2 separate regions of the Homo sapiens genome follow, and region 2 is linked to region 1. Evidence: fine-mapped expression QTL. A gene starts in region 1. The other region holds a variant in brackets. All regions are shown on one strand. Distances are between the middles of the regions.

What was found. PIP is the estimated chance that this variant, and not a neighbour inherited with it, causes the effect.
Region 2: its variant is the best candidate, but not a certain one, in a credible set for the expression of DCHS2 in prefrontal cortex (ROSMAP, PIP 0.51).

The regions. Positions count from the first base shown.
Region 1 is chr4:154,489,222-154,494,598 of GRCh38, reverse strand. DCHS2 (dachsous cadherin-related 2) reads left to right here and starts at 2,800. Exons shown (of 20, transcript NM_001358235.2): 1 at 2,800-5,295. The coding sequence starts at 3,244. RefSeq lists enhancers at 2,370-2,419, 3,222-3,401, 3,452-3,591, 3,060-4,015, 4,016-4,972.
Region 2 is chr4:154,517,932-154,523,308 of GRCh38, reverse strand. No RefSeq gene overlaps it. Among named protein-coding and RNA genes, the nearest start is that of DCHS2, 29 kb to the right of the region's middle. The variant G/AG (reference allele first, on the strand shown) is at 2,891.

The DNA of each region.
Region 1 (5,377 bases):
GTTTAAAAGTGTATAGCACCTCCCCATTCATTTTCTTCCTCCTGCCTACTTCCCCTTCACTTTCTGCTATGATTGTAAGTTTCCTGAGGCCTCCCCAGAAACTGATCCCACCATGCTTCCTGTACAGCCTGCAGAACCATGAGCCAATTAAACATTTTTTCTTTATAAATTACCCAGTCTCAGGTTCTTTACAGCAATGCAAGAACAGACTAATACAATGGTTTACAAAGTAAGTTGACGAAGCTGAAAAATAAGTTCAAGAAGTCCTATGAAATAATTAAGATGAGTAAGATTGCAAAGACATAATTCATTACAGTGAAGATTCTCATGGCCAATTCATTCTTGGTTATGGCTTCCAACTTCTACTTTAACAGACAAATGCATTCACTTACCCATAGGTTCAACCAACCGTCTGTCCAACACATACTTAGTAAATAGAGACACACTACATGCTAGGTACTGTTCTAGGTGCTGAGATAAAGCAGAATGAAGGTTTTGAGGTTGTAATAATCTAATAAACAAATGAAAAAAGCAAGTTGATTTCAGATGCTGATAGGTGTTGTGAATGAAATATACTGAAAGGATATAGCATTTATAGTAGAAAGGCTATCTGAAATAGGGTAATTAGGGAAGATCTTTCTTAACAGAGGGCATTGGAGTTGAGACCTGAATGAGAAAGAGCTAGCTCTTTCCAAAGCAGAAAAAAGAACTCCCAGGCATGGAAAGTTCTAACAATTCAAAGGTACAAGATCAAAAAGAAGGCAGATGGCTGAGTCCAGAGTGGTGGTATGAGGCAAGGTCAGAAAGATGGATAGGATCCTGTACTACTAAAAGGAGCTTGATTGAAGGAGTCTGAATTATAATCTAAGTATAATGGAATCATTTCAGGTTCTAAGCAGGAGGTAATATGATTTGAGACAGCTTTAAAAACATTAATCCAGATGCTTGTTCAAGAATTACTTATAGGCTGGTTGCGGTGGCTCAAGCCTGTAATCCCAGCACTTTGGGAGGCCTAGGCAGGAAGACTGGCCCCAGGAGTTCGAGACGAGCCTGGGCAATATAGTGAGACCTCATCTCTACAAAAGTAAAAAAAATAAACAAATAAATTAATAAAATAATATAAAATTTGCCAGGTATAGTGGTGGGCACCCATAGTCCCAGCTACTCTGGAAGCTGAGGTGATGGAATCACTTGAGTCCATGAGGTTGCAGTGCGCCATGATTGCACCACCGCACTCCAGCCTGGGTGACAGAGTGAGATCCTGACTCAGAAAACAAAACAGCAACAACAACAACAATAGCAAAAACAGAAAAGAATTACTTATAAAGGGGCAAGAGTGGGAGGGGAGGGACTAGTTAGGGTGCAAATGCAGAGACTGAAGATAAAAAGACTCTAAAGACTCATAACAAATCTCTTTAATGGTTAAAGAGAGTTCATTGGGGGAAAGAAAGCTGAATTTATTTTAATAATGTCCCCATTTTCGGTAACATATATGCTACAAAGTCAATTATTTTATTGTTATTTGGTCACAGGTAGAGATAACGGTGTGGCTGTGGATTAGCAATTACATACACCTCCGTTGCACATTTAAAAAGGCATTTTGTTGTTGCTGCAAGAAACCACTATGCAGGGCTTTTGGTCCTCCCTAAAGGAGAGAAACGGTATCTAGGAAATTAATTCTTCTCTCAGGCCCAAATGCAAAATTGCAGAAACCACTTGCTAAATATGGTCAGCCATTTTTAAGAGTCCAGAGAGTCTTTTCTCAGGCGTACTTTATTAGAGGCCATTGATCAGTTTCTACCGATTATTATAGTTAATTGAAGGGAAATCTGCGACTATGGCTATTTATTGGCATTTGCGTTCGGCTCAGACAGAAGCTAGTTTTGAAAGTGGTATCCGTAGAGTTATCCCGCTTGCACACTTCCTTGCCTAGGGGTGGTGGGGGAGCGCTGAGGGCTTGCGGGGTGTCAGCCACCAGGGCTTTCTGCTCATCAGTCAGCATCGTCAGACATCCTGGAAGTGTTATGATGGCGCTGAATGTAGAAAAAGGGTTCTCAGGGCGGATATATTGTCGTCATTCCTGGTGGCAGAGGGGAGTGACAAGAGGCTCACACGTCGCTGGGTAGTAGCACGCATAATAAAGTGTGGTTTGCACCATGTGTGCCACAGATTTCTCGGGTTTTCTGGAAGGCTTTTCCAAGTTCCGCCTTCTCCCCTTTAAAGCCATCCTGGCCCCAGCTATGCATCGGCCTTTGACTCCATCTGTCCTTCCGCTGCGGACGGGAGTCCCTCTCGCCAAATGGAGAACACAAGTTTGGCACCCCAAAGTGATGATAACCTCTACCCTCTTGGCTCAGCGCGAGCCAAGAGTCAGGCCTGCAGAGGGACGGTCAAGCGGATGGAGGGGGAGGCCGCGGAGAGGCCGCTCCTCTCACCTCCCCGCACCCATCATCACTTGGCACTTGGCCAAGCCCAGGCAGACGCCCCGCCTGCGCGTCCCCCACCCGCCCCGCGGTGCACGTCTCCCAGTGCTTTTGCATTTGCTCCTCTTCCGCCCTGCTGCAGAGCGCGGCTCGCAGGTTGGAGTTTGCCCTCGTGTGCGCCGCATCACACGGCAGGGAGGGGAAGGCAGGCGGCGGAGGCTGGGTCGGAGCAGGAGTCGCGCGGTCCCTGGCGCCCGGAGACACAGTGGGGAACCACCGCCCCGCCCCCGGAGCAGCGGACAGGGCCGCAGACCTCCCTTCCCCCCTCCCTCTCTCCCTCCTCCCCAGCGCCCTGACTCCCTGCCTCCACGCCCTTACTCCACCCCCTACTCCGGCCAGATCCCCATCCTCTCCTTGTGTGTGCGCGCTTCATATAATCTCCTCCTTTTTGGCAAAAGAAATAATGCACCTGACTTTACCAGGGGGGAACAACCAGCCGAGTAGAACAAGGAACAGATGTAAAGGGAATAAAAGGAGAGAGAAAAAGAGATGAGATTCGTTTAAAGAAATCCAGGGGCAGAAGAGGTGGCTGCCGCGGCAGAGGCAGCTAGAGCTTACTTCCCTGTCTGCGTGAGCTGCAGGCAGAGGACGCTTTCACCAGTTGCAGATGTAACCTCGGGAATTCCTGGGCCGTCGGTTTGTTTGCCAAACAAAGTCTTTTCTTCTCTGGCTCAGACACTGAAGAGGCTCCTGGATTTTTCTGCGATCCTGCCACAAGCTGGCAGTTACCCGAGAGCCTTCCCAAGGAGCTGGAGGAGAAATGAGCCCTTGTGGGCGGAAGATGGGCGAAGGGCGTCAGCAGCGGCGGGCTCCGGTCGGGAAGCTCCTTCTGCTCCCCGGGAGGAGAGATACACCCCATGGGCGGTCAGGCAGCAGCGGCGCCAGGACGCAGCGCTCCCTGCTCTGGCTCTTGGTGCACGTGTGGCTGTGGGCGGCCTCGGGCTCCTCTGCCCAGTTGTTCAACCTCACCCTTTCCGTAGATGAGGGGCTTCCCCCGGACACGCTGGTAGGTGACATCCGCGCCGGGCTGCCGGCCGCGCAGCAGCAGGAGGGGAGCGGCTTCTTTCTGTCGGAGGACTCCGATGACTCCCCGCTGCTGGACGACTTCCACGTGCACCCGGACACCGGCATCATCCGCACTGCGCGGCGCCTGGACCGCGAGCGGCGGGACCACTACAGCTTCGTCGCCGCCACGCTGCTGGGCGCTGTGGTGCAGGTGGAGATTCGCGTCAACGACGTGAATGACCACTCGCCCCGCTTTCCCCTCGACTCCCTGCAACTCGACGTCTCCGAGCTCAGCCCGCCAGGGACCGCCTTCCGCCTGCCAGTTGCCCACGATCCGGACGCCGGACTGTTCAGCACTCAGGGCTACACCCTGGTGCAACCGTCCGACCTGCCCAAGGACCCCGCAGGCCCGTTCTTCCAGTTGCGCTACCGGACTCCGGGGCCACTACCGTCACCGCTTTTGCCAGGCTCCTCGTCACCCCTGGAGCCTCTAGATCTGGTGCTGCTGCGGCGCTTGGACCGAGAGGAGGCGGCGGCGCACCGGCTGCAGATCGAGGCATGGGACGGCGGCCGACCCCGGCGCACCGGCCTCCTGAGCGTGGAGCTGCGCGTGCTGGATGAGAACGACAACCCGCCGGTCTTTGAGCAGGACGAGTACCGCGCCGCGGTGCGCGAGGACGCCCAGCCGGGCGCCGAGGTCTGTCGCGTGCGCGCCACCGACCGCGACCTGGGGCCCAATGGCTTCGTGCGCTACAGCGTCCGCGCCCGGCAAGTGCCTGGGGCGGGTAGCGGCGGCGGGGCACTGGGCGACGCGGCCTACTTCGCGGTGGAGGAGCTGAGCGGCGTGGTGCGAGTGTGGAGACCTCTGGACCGCGAGGCACAGGCCTGGCACCAGTTGGTGGTGGAGGCCCGCGATGGAGGCGCCGAGCCTGAGGTTGCCACGGTGCGCGTGTCCATCGCCGTGCTGGACGTGAATGACAACCGGCCAGCAATTCACGTGCTCTTTCTCACAGAGGGAGGCGTCGCCCGTGTCTCTGAAGGCGCCCGACCGGGCGACTACGTGGCTCGCGTCTCGGTGTCTGACGCGGACGGTGACTGGGAGAAGGAAGATGAGGCCACAGGGGAGCTTGGTGTGGGTCTTGGAGACGGGAGCATCTCTCTGTCCTTGGAAGGCGGAGAGGGAGACTTCGCGTTGCTACCCGGCGGCCCCCCAGGGGTATTTTTCCTTTGCGTGGAGGGGCCCCTGGACAGAGAGAGCCGCGATCTGTATGAGTTACTACTGGTGGCCACGGACGCGGGGTCCCCGCCGCTGAGCACGGAGGAGACGCTGCTACTCCGGGTCGCTGACCTCAATGACCAACCACCTCTCTTCAGCCAACAGCATTACAAGGCCTCAGTGTCCGAGGCCGCGGCCCCTGGCACTGTAGTCATGTGGGTCAGCGCCTCCGATGCCGACGAGGCAGGCAGTGATCACGCCTGGCTGCGCTACACTGTAGTCCAACTCTCGGCTCCCTGCAATCTCGGCTCCCTGCAATCAAAGATGGTCCACACCGCAGAGTGTGGACCATCTTTTGCCATTGATTCCGAAAGCGGTGCGATCAGCACTATCCGGACTCTAGACCGAGAGGTCCAGGAGGCGGTGGAGCTGAAAGTGGTGGCCCAGGACCTCGGAGAGCCCCCACTCTCTGCCACCTGCCTGGTGAGCATCACCGTAGATGATGTGAATGACAATGAGCCCATCTTCTGGAGGCAGGTGTACAATGCCACCATTGCAGAGCATGCCCCGGTTGGACACTGCTTTCTGCAGGTGAGTGCATCAGGCCTGTGGGCCAACCTGAAGGCTTGGGAAGGGATGGAGAGGGTTGTGAGTTGGCCTAGGAAATTGTGAT
Region 2 (5,377 bases), 29 kb before region 1:
TGGAGAAATCTGTATTGAAGTCCTTTGTCCGTTTTTAAATCATGTTGTTTGGTTTTTTTTTAATTGTTAAGTTGTAGGAGCTCTTATCTATTCTGGATATTAAACCCTTACCAGATATATGATTTGCAAATATTTTTTTCCATCCGTTGCCATTTCATTCCGTTTATTGTGTCTTTTGATGTACAATGATTAATTTTTATGTAGTCCAATTTATCTATTTGTACTTTTGTTGCCTGTGCTTTTGGTGTCAGGTGCAAGAAATCATGGCCAAATCCAGTGTCATGAAGCTTTTCTCCGATGTTGTCTTCTAAGAGTTTTATAGTTTTAGCTCTTCAGTTTAAGTTTTTAATCCATTTTGAGTTAATTTTTGTATATGGTGTTACCTACGGGTCCAACTTTATTCTTTCGCATGGGGATATCTGGTTTTCCCAACACCATTTGTTGAAAAGACTGTCCTTTCCCCATTTACTGGTCTTGGCAGCCTTGTTGAAAATCATTTGACCACATATGGATAATTTATTTCTAGGCTTTCTATTCTGTTCCATTGGTCTATATGTCCCTTTATGCCAGTATCACACTATTTTGATTACTATATCTTTGTAATACATTTTGATACTGGGAAGTGTGAAACCTCTGAAGTTGTTCTTTTTAAGATTGTTTTGGCTATTCTGGGTCCCTTGAGATTCCACATGAGTCTTAGGATGGATTTTTTTCTGCTTAAGCAAAAACATTGGGATTTTGATAGGGATTGCATTAAATTTGTAGATCACTTTAGGTAGTATTGACATCAAAGTTCCCATTTTTGGTGATACAGGATCACTCTTGATTTCAGAATTTTTTATCCATAGTTGACGAAAAGAGATAAGGAAAACAGCCATATGTAATGAGTTTCCAGAGATGTGAATATCAAAATATCAAAGAACATTCACTCTGTGTCCTCAGTTCAGGAGTCAGGCTTCTAGTTTCCTTTCTAGAACTCATTCATCTTTTTTACCCCAGCCTGCCTTCCTTGTAACAGAACTGGATATGAACATTCCTGTAAGAGCGCTTACCAAGTTTTCACTAATTGACAGAAATTCAAAATGTGAAACATTTTAAGTACCCATGCTACTTTTTGTTCCAGAGAAAAATGACATTTAAGATGATAAGTGTCAAACAACATGCCCACTCTAAATGTAAACTCTGTCCCTTGCTTTCTACAACAGTAGGCCTTTAACTACCCCCAAGGAACTTCACATTTTCCATTTCACATTTGATTTTTATTTCTTCCTTTCAGGTTTGAAAATCTGAATCTCCTTGACAAAGCTAACTTTTAAATGTATCATTATGAGACAGCCTAATTATTTTTTAGATCCTTCATGGTCATTTATTTTTCTTAAGGGCCATTCATTTACCTGTTTCATTCACTTAGATGGAACACCCAGCATGATTTTCAAAGTCATTTTGAAATAATGGAAACCCTGCCCAGTCCTTTAAAGGAAAGAGCTTACTTTAATAGATTTTGAGGGGTATCCTAGCAACCAGTCCACAGTGAAATTTATCAATTTCTTAAAGGGAATCTGCACTAAATCCATGAAAAAGACATTTCAATTTTGGTTTCTTAGGTCCATCTTTTCTACATTGTTCCAGGGATTGGACTTGATTGGATATCTTCACTTTTGAGACTTCATTTAATGACCATTAAAAACATAGTTGATGTTCTTCCACTCAGCGTAGCTCCTTTCATGGCATTGGACTCTACCTGAAAATAGAAAGATGGATACATAGAGAAATATTTCTAAGTTGTATAAGCAGCCCAAAACTTAGTGCAAAAATCGAATATATATTTGTGCTTTTTGTTCTTATTTCTGTACATGCAAAAATACAAGGCAAAATCTTCTTGATCCCAAGAAAAGCCAGGGCTTGGAAAGCATATTCATTCATGCCAATCTTGGCTTTCCTGGGTGCTGTGAATGAGAGAAGATTTATTTGGTCGTGCTTTCAGATATTAGTCGTTTCCAAGTTGCGAATTTTTTTTTTTTGATTCTGAACCCAAATCAAAATAAAAATTTTCCCCAGATATGTAGACAAGTCAAGCATGAAATAGCATAAATGGAGTACACATTCTGCAAGTAGGATTTAAAATTGAGAAGGCTATTAAAATTAAATAGCATTAACAATTCAACTCTAGATAACCCGGGAATAATGCCTGCATAGGAAATTCATATGGGTGAGCGAGACTTATTCTCAGTCTTTTTGCTATCTTGAAAAGCAAAATGAAATTGTTCTGTGCATTGGTCTTTGGGATTTAGAATTCATGCAATGTTTACAATACATTCATTTAGTGTTTGACTAGATAGAAGTGGACATTTGTTTAAGGACATGCAGGTATAAAAAGTATACACTTGTTTTAATTAGTACTATGATAATTTAATTATAGGGAGAGAATTTTCATAATTCAGCTGGCTGACTAATGTTTCCTTGATATGTGCTGGTGAACAAATGAATAAGCATTTAGTAGCTCATATTTACACTGATAGCCTATTTCTGGCACAATACCCATTAACAGAGTTTGAATTTATGTAGAATATTTTGCCTTTTAAAATATTAGGTATTTGGCCAGGTGCGGTGGCTCACACCTGTAATCCCAGCACTCTGGGTGGCCGAGGCAGGTGGATCATTTGAGGTCAGGAGTTTGAGACCAGCCTGACTAACATGGTGAAACCCCATCTCTACTAAAAATGCAAAAAAAAAAATTACCCAGGCATGGTTGCTCATGCCTGTAGTCCCAGCTACTCAGGAGGCTGAGGCAAGAAAATTGGTTAAACCTGGGAGACAGAGGTTGCAGAGAGCCGAGATCACACCACTGTACCCCAGCCTGGGTGACCTCCGTCTCAAAAAAAAAAAAAAA[G/AG]AAAGAAAAAATAGGTATTTAATAAAGATTTGTTTATTTCACCATACTAATTATTCTTTACAGTATTTTTATTTAAATGTACTCTGAATTATTTAAAATTTTATTCTTTCAGTTATTCTTTGAGCTCTTTTAATATTACTTTTGCTTTTTTCATCATGTTTGCTTATTTTTTATTTGTTGCATCTATTATTAGCTAGTTGGTTTGAAAGATTATTGTTCTTAAACGATTGATCCTTAGCTCATTGAATCCTGCTTTATTTGTTTTCCTTTATCTTTGGTTTCCTGAAAGGAGTCAGGTTATTATTAGTTTTTGTTGGCAACAAGGAAGTCTGAGACAGGGTGACAGCAGCAGCAAGGACCCACACCAGGGAGGTGGAAACTGTTGGAACCCATCCACTTCCCTGGTGTGGTCCTCCTTTGACTTCTCTCATCCCCAAGGCCGTCAGTGTTGATTCTCCAAATAATCTTAGCCAGCACCATTTAAGCATCCCCCACAGGCTAAGAAGGCTTTACAAGCCAAAATTGTCTTATTTATTCAAACAGCACGCTTGGATTCCCATCACCTTAGGCAGTCCTCAATTCACAACTCTCAGAACAGCAATTATTGACTGAATAGCTGTATGCTGACTTTATGCCCCATATTTGCTGTAAGTTGGTTGTTTGGAACTCAGGAAGCATTTTCCAGAAACATTCCCATTCTTGTGTCTGGGTTCCTAGGTCAGTTGGCAAAAGCCCAGGGAATCTGAACCAGTCTGACTCTTCCCCTTTTTTCTTTTATATATATATATAAATCCTAGCATACCGAAGTCTTTTCTGTATATATTTACAACAATCCCAAGGAATTAGCTTTTTATTGAGTAAGTTTTAAGTCACTCTTTCCAGGGTTAAATGAGGTAATGGGAGAAATAGACAGGGATGGCAAAAATGAGCGCAGAATGTGAGCTGCAGTCTCAGATGGCTGTTCCTGGAGCACATGTGACAACTGGAGAATAATTCCAGCACAGAGGACTGAGGACAGCGGAGGCAGAGATAAGCACAAACACTCGCTGGGTGAAACTGTCGAATATGTGGGGCACTTGGGATGGGAGTACAGTCACAGAGACCAATGCATTTTGGTCTGTGTTTTATCTTCAACAATGCTAAACAGATTTATGAGCACCTTACTAAAATGGCCTATGTGGGAGATCCTCAAGAGATTCCAGAGAGCAAGAGATGTCAAATGGAAATTCATGGTATAGAACTTATCATTACTAATGGTTTTACTCTCAATCTTGATGACCTCCAAACAGTTTTTCCTTAAGATCTTAAATTTCTCAATCTGCAGCTCTCTACAGCCACCATGGTGGCAGGCATTCAGCCACTGAACTGGAGAACTGAATACTGAAAGCAGCCAAGACTAGCACAGTGGTGTTGTAGTACCCTTAATTAAAAGAGAAGAACATTAAACTACATTAAAAACAAAATAGTGGGGTTTTTTTTGTTGTTCTGTTTTTTGTTTTCTTGAATGCTGGTGATTAAGGAAAGGAAAGTCTAATTAGAGCAGGATAGGGAGATTTGGAATGGGACTTGTGGCTGCTTTCAAGTGCTTTGAAAGTTGGTGGCATTGATTCCTTTTGAACTTTTTTCTTTTCAATGTTTTTATGTGTATGTCTGGATCATTGCCCTCCAGCCCTCCTGCTCTTCCCTCACCACACACACAATCTTTTAGTTTGGCTCACAAATGAAACAAAAATCGAACAATAAATGAAAAATAAGAAAGGTGGATTCCTGAGATAAACTATCAGAAAGGAAGAAAGTGAAAGGGATCAAAGGCATATTATTGAGGGGGAAGATTTCTCAAAGCAGAACTGAGAGAATAAGGAGACAGACAGAAAAGGAGATGAGAGCAAGAGAGAGAAGAAAGCTAGGGACAAAGGGAAAGAGTAAGGCAGGGAGAAAAAGAGGGAGAGAGAGGAGCAGAAATAGGAGCGCAGGAGATTCAGTGAGGATCTGATGTTGGCAATTTCAGATGGGGCAGAGAAACTTTTGATCCTTCAGTTCTTTTAGCTAGTGCTGTGGACCTACACGTGTTTGGTTTAGATCAAAGAAACCTGGAATCAGAACAGCTTAAGGACTTCGTTCTTAACTCTGGCTTCACATTAGATCCACCCAGGGAGTTTTAAAAGCCGCCTAGACCTGCCTCCCCTCCCAGAAACAGGGACAGATTGATCTGGGCTGGGACATCATATTTTTTAAAGTTCACTGGGTAGTTCTAATGCCTAGTCACGGTTGAGACCCTAGGCAGGTCTGGAGACATTGGGGCAGTATGAAACTGGCATTGTGTGCTTGTGGGATGCTGTTTGTAAGCTAGTTGTCACCCTGAGGAGCTTGTCTACATCTAAGTACTTTTAAAATACTAGCTCATCTAGCAAAAGAGGACCCACGGGGTGCTCTCCTGTGCTGAACTCTTTCTAAGGAGTATGGACTCCACAAAAGCCATGGATAACC